2 separate regions of the Homo sapiens genome follow, and region 2 is linked to region 1. The links come from fine-mapping of genetic effects on gene expression. Tissue or cell type: monocytes after LPS. Region 1 holds a variant in brackets; the other region holds the start of a gene. All regions are shown on one strand. Distances are between the middles of the regions.

Region 1 (2,849 bases):
CATGGCAGATAGGAAGAAGAGAGCCAAGCTACACCACGCCCACAGGCTTAGTGCTCCTGCTTAGATGTGGCAGATGTCCTTCTGTTCACACAGCCAGGCTGAACATCAGTGGCAGGGTTAATCTGTGAATAACTGTACTATCCGCCATAGTAGGGCAGGGTGGGTGATAGGTCTTGCAAAAGTCAACATTCTGTATAATTTGTAATAAAACACAACACAAGCACAGGTAATTTCAGATAGTTTTAAATTATATCCTTCATATCTGCACTTCTACTGCATATAGATTGGATAGTTAATAAAAATCTGTTAAAATGGGGAAGGAAGGACGAAGAGAGGGAGGGAGGAAAGGAGGAGTAGGTGAAAGGCACCCATGTTTAGTGTTTACGATACATGATGGACACACATTGTTTTTAATGTTCTGGAGATCATCTGCTATCTTTATACAATCACCAAGTGACATATACTTGTATATCAGTACTATAATATTTCTTCTCAAAAAAGAAAGTTTCTGTAAGGTTCCTAATATTTTGATGTATAATGAATACATGATGTATAGAGAACACAATAAAGCATCTCTCTGTTCCAGGCAGCAGACTGGAAAAACATCAAGTTAAACGGCAATTTCAAGCAGCAATCATCCCTTATCCTCTCAAGTATATCCCAAGAAGTCCTAATCCCCACTATTGAGGTCTATGAACCTTTCAACTCTAATAAAGAAACCAAACTTCTCCTAAGACAACACTCCAAGTGAATCACTGATTTCTTCATTACTATGAAGAAAGAGGACTTCATGATAAAGCCTGAAATGTTGCTTTATTTCAACCATTCTTGTGGACAACTTTAAACTGTTGCCTACACACGTGGTCTCGAAATTCTGCTGAGTGCCGTATCAAAACATAAAAAGATGTCACTGAGTCCAAGTGTAAAGTGTCCACAATCTGTTGAGAAAATCACATAACCTTTTACTCCTAGGTGTTGTAAAAGTATTTACAGCCATATGTCTTCTCAATAATGGCACAAGTTCAGATGTCAGACACCACAGATAACAAAAGCAGAAAAACAGGGATGCGGGGACCCTACTAGCCAAAATTGGACAATATAAAATTAATCTTTAGTTGCCCTCAGACTCCCAATGTAAAACTACTTATTTGAGAGGCAGTATACATCTTAAACATAAAATGAGACTGTCTCTCATCACCCCCCTTAAATACTTCCTAGACAGTTCTCCACCCCTCCCCAGGCCAATGTACCAAGAATATCAACATAAAAGGTCTTCTTTTCCATGAATAGGACAAGCAAAGACCGTACTATATAAAATTCATGCTTTATACATTCAGAAAATACACACACTAGTTAAAGAGTACATGGAAGTAAACAGTTTTCTGCTCTTGCAATAGAGATTTTAAAATTCAAGAACAGCATAAATTTTCTTATGA[C/T]AGTAATGAATGATGTGGGTGAGACAACACTGTTTTTTCTAATGAAACAAAGAGTATGAGTTAACAATGCTGAGGTTAAGGTACTAATTTCTTACCTTAGGAGCCAGGGCTTTCCCGCTGTCTTCATGGGATGCATGTATGTTTGGCTGAAGAACTGAAGCAACCAACAAGGCCAGCCAGCCTGTACATACTCCCTTCCGCAGAACCTCTGTTGTGGCAGTAGACAGAAATTCCACAATGTTGAAGACAAAATGGAGCTTTCCTGGGTGAAATAAACTTGAGCTGCAAAGATACACAGACAAGTTTTGAACTCGATATCAGTACTACTACACATATGGGTCAAACCAATCCTTTTATTCAGTTTAGAAATATTTCCTTATAGGCTCTAATCTACCTTCCAAATCCTCACAGAGGAAAGCCATTATTACGTAATTAAAAACTGCCCCCAACCTTCACACTCTCACACCCTACATTTTGTTATTCAAGAAAGTTTCCAATTTTATTTGCTTGCACTAGGACTAGATGATATTTATAAAATCTAATATGCCCTAAGGATCTTCATGTAAAGGATTCATTCACTCAATATTTATTATAAAGATGTGAAGAAATGGGGATAAATTCTAACAAATATCCATACATTATCTACTGGTAAGATCATAAAACTTGAAAGTGACTGAAGTATACACCCAGAAAGGAGAAAACTAAAAATTCAAAGTAAAAACATCTTTAAAAGACATCCCTACAAAAGTAGATTTCTTTTCACATTACACGGTAAATAATGCGAAAGAACTTGAGTTCATTCTTAATTCCCCTTTCAACCAAAAGAATGGTGCACCTTCTTGTATTATTACTGAAAGGCAAAACAGAGAGCCAGACGGGAAAACGGTAGAGGCTGTGCAATGGAATGAAGGCCACAGGGAGAATCCTATAAGCCAGTGCTCATCAAATATTCTTTTTTTTTATTTTTTTGAGACAGGGTATCACTGTCGCCCAGGCTGGAGTGCAGTGGCTCGATCTTGGCTCACTGCAAGCTCCGCCTCCCGGGTTCACGCCATTCTCCCACCTCAGCCTCCCAAGTAGCTGGGACTACAGGCGCCTGCCACCACGCCCGGCTAATTTTTTGTATTTTTAGTAGAGACGGGGTTTCACCGTGTTAGCCAGGATGGTCTTGATCTCCTGACCTCATGATCCGCCCGCCTCGGCCTCCCAAAGTGCTGGGATTACAGGAGTGAGTCACCACGCCCGGACTCATCAAATGTTTTATAGTGGAACTTTTCTGTCTCCCCTGCCTCCGGCTGCCACTCAGTGAAGGTGGCTGGGCACACGGACACAGGAAGCATGTGGAGGAGCCTGAGACTCCTAAGTGGGGAAACATAGTACTGGGCCATGGGAAGCCACCCAAGATGTTAAATT
Region 2 (2,655 bases), 24 kb after region 1:
GAACAAAACTTGAGCCACAGTATCATTCACAACAGTCTTAAATAGCTTTTGGTTTCCTCTTTTTAAAAAAAGATAAAAGTAAAAACTATATTAAAATGATAGGATTCTTGGTTCTTATTTGATCCTAACGCTAAACAAACTAATCATAGTACTAAAGGTAACTGAAGCACATACTCTCCTTCATTATTTAATGCAAATCAAAAATATGTGAGTGTATGGGCATATATACAAACGGGTGCATATAACGAAAAAATATTTCCAATCCACTTAAACATTTTACTAACACGTTTTTCCGCAAGAGATAAGCAGTAGTAAAACAAACGACACTCACAGATTTTTTTCCATACTCATCTAACGGCTAAAATTGGTGGGCTGTCAATTTGCAGAGACAGATTTAAACTGAAACCCAAACCAAAAGCTTGGCTTTCGGTGAATGAACCGCCCAGAACGGCACCTGGCATGAAACTGGTACTCGATAAGTTATCTGAATGAGTGAATAAACAATATGAAAACACTACACATTGACAGCTCACAGAAAACGGTGGAAACGATAATGAAAACCTTACTACAGCTAAAATTTCTATCACTTCCCATGAAACACACATCCTGAGGGCTTCCCAGGATCAATCAACCCCTCATCCCTGCTACTGCCCCACAATCCGGCACCACCTTCCCACGACTCTCAGCGGAGGCCCGGGCCCCAGCAGCCCCGGAAGCGGCGCGGAGGCGGTGGGCAGAGCTCACGGCCGCGGGCAGAACTCACGGCCGCGTCCCGCCGGGTGGGCGCTCGGAACGTCCCGGGTTCCCCGGAGCGCGCCGCCCCAACCCGGCATGTTCCCCAGTTCCCCGCGTCCCCGAGTGCGGTTTCCCTAGGCCTGGAAAGCGCCTAGAACCAAAGGCAGAACATGAGGAGAGACCCCACGCCGCCCAGGGGCCTCCCGCGGCAGAGGCCGACGCCGAGCCCAAGGACACGCTCCCGGGGACACCAAAGCCAAAGGCCAAAGGCCAAGTCCGAGCCCCAGCCCGCGCCCGCGGCGACCCCCGGAGGCCGAAGGGCGTGGGAACCACGGGCGCAAGCCGGCTGCCCACCCCCGCCCCGGGCCGCCTCTCCCAGGAGATTAGTGCAGGGCGAGCGGCCGGAATCCGGGAACCGTAGCCGACAGGCAGCTTACCCACGCCGCGCCAGCCGGGCACGAACCTGCACAACGCGACTTCCACCAACCTTGCGCCAGCGCGCACTGACGCAGCGCCCATGCTCGGTACCCAGGACCAATAGAAAGCTCCGAAGGGGACCTGGGCCAATCACATTGCGCCGCCCTGAGTCGTGCTCCCGCCCCGCGTTTGCTACGGAGGCCCACGACGCCCAGGCGCTTCCGCGACCACCCGGAGTGATTGCCCGGCAGAGCGCGGTAGGTGTCAACGCGGGGTCTCCGCGCAGTTGGTCCGGCTGGGTGTCAAAGACCTGGCCGGCTTTCTCCTCAGGCTGCGCCGCCCGGCCCGTGTCTCAGCGCAGGTCCCCGGGGCGCCGAGTTTGGGGGTGCTCGCCCCGCGGGTCCCTTTCATTCCTAGGAAAACGCGCCGCGGGGCCTCCCGTCTGTCTGTCTTGCACACACGTGTTGCCAAATCCCCCCGCACCGTCTTTAGATCTGGACTGGCCGCCCCACCTTCTCCCTTCATTGATCTATGTTTTGCTTTTTCTTTTCCTACCTTGTTTCCATTGACAAAGTAGACCCTTTCCTTCAACACTAACCTTCTCCCGACACCGAGGGGAAACCAACAGCTTAGGGCCTTTCCAGCGCGTTTTTACCCTTGCCTTGCTCTAACCTCGCCTAATTTTGCCCACTTTACCTGTTCTTTGATTTCTATCCAAATGCAATTTCTTCCTTCAACCAACATTTAAGGGCCACCCTTAAGAGCTACATTGCCTGAGTTTGAACCCTAGCTCTGCCACTTAACCACCTGCATAAACTGGGCAAAGTAACTTTGTGCTTCAACTTCTTCCTCGTGTAAAATGATAGTAAAAGTACTGAATCTGTGTAAGTTAATAGAATACCTACAACAGTGTTTAGCAAGTAATAGCGATTGTTATTGTTCAATGTCAGCCACTCTTCTAACTCTAGGATGCAGAGACTTTGCCCCTCTGGTGTTTATATGTTAACCATCCTTTTTTTTTTTTTTTTTTTTTTTCCAGATACTCGTTTGTAGTTTCATAAACATTGATGTTGGGTCAATCATGTTCTCAATGTATTTAACCATGTGTTTTTAAATTTTTTAATTTAGTTATCAAATTGAGAATCTGATGGTATGGCATTAATCACCTTGAGGAAGAACCTTTATCGTTTATCTGATTTTCAGATGCATAGAGCTCTGGCTGCTTTAAAAAATAAACCTCTAAATCATGTTCACAAGGTAGTCAAGGAGCGTCTGTGCCCTTGGTTGTGTTCACGACAACCTGAGCCTTTCGGGGTCAAATTCCATCATGCCCATTGTAAAAAGTTTCATTCGAAAAATGGAAATGACCTTCATCCACTCGGTGGACCAGTGTTCTCTCAAGTATCTGACTGCGACAGGCTTGAACAAAATGTTAAAAATGAGGAGAGTCAGATGTTTTACAGGAGACTGAGCAACTTGACTTCATCAGAAGAAGTGCTAAGT

The links. PIP is the estimated chance that this variant, and not a neighbour inherited with it, causes the effect.
Region 2: MTRR starts here. The variant in region 1 is fine-mapped to the expression of MTRR in monocytes after LPS (Fairfax 2014, PIP 0.95). The same link has a PIP of 0.9 or more in B cells, NK cells and monocytes after interferon gamma.

What each region holds. Positions count from the first base shown.
Region 1 is chr5:7,891,596-7,894,444 of GRCh38, reverse strand. MTRR (5-methyltetrahydrofolate-homocysteine methyltransferase reductase) reads right to left here. Exons shown (of 15, transcript NM_002454.3): 11 at 1,532-1,718. Among named protein-coding and RNA genes, the nearest start is that of MTRR, 24 kb to the right of the region's middle. The variant C/T (reference allele first, on the strand shown) is at 1,437.
Region 2 is chr5:7,867,733-7,870,387 of GRCh38, reverse strand. MTRR (5-methyltetrahydrofolate-homocysteine methyltransferase reductase) reads right to left here and starts at 1,240. Exons shown (of 15, transcript NM_002454.3): 1 at 1,173-1,240. It overlaps FASTKD3 (FAST kinase domains 3), which reads left to right and starts at 1,357. Exons shown (of 7, transcript NM_024091.4): 1 at 1,357-1,409; 2 at 2,192-2,655. The coding sequence starts at 2,305. RefSeq lists silencers at 738-787, 848-897, 908-1,347.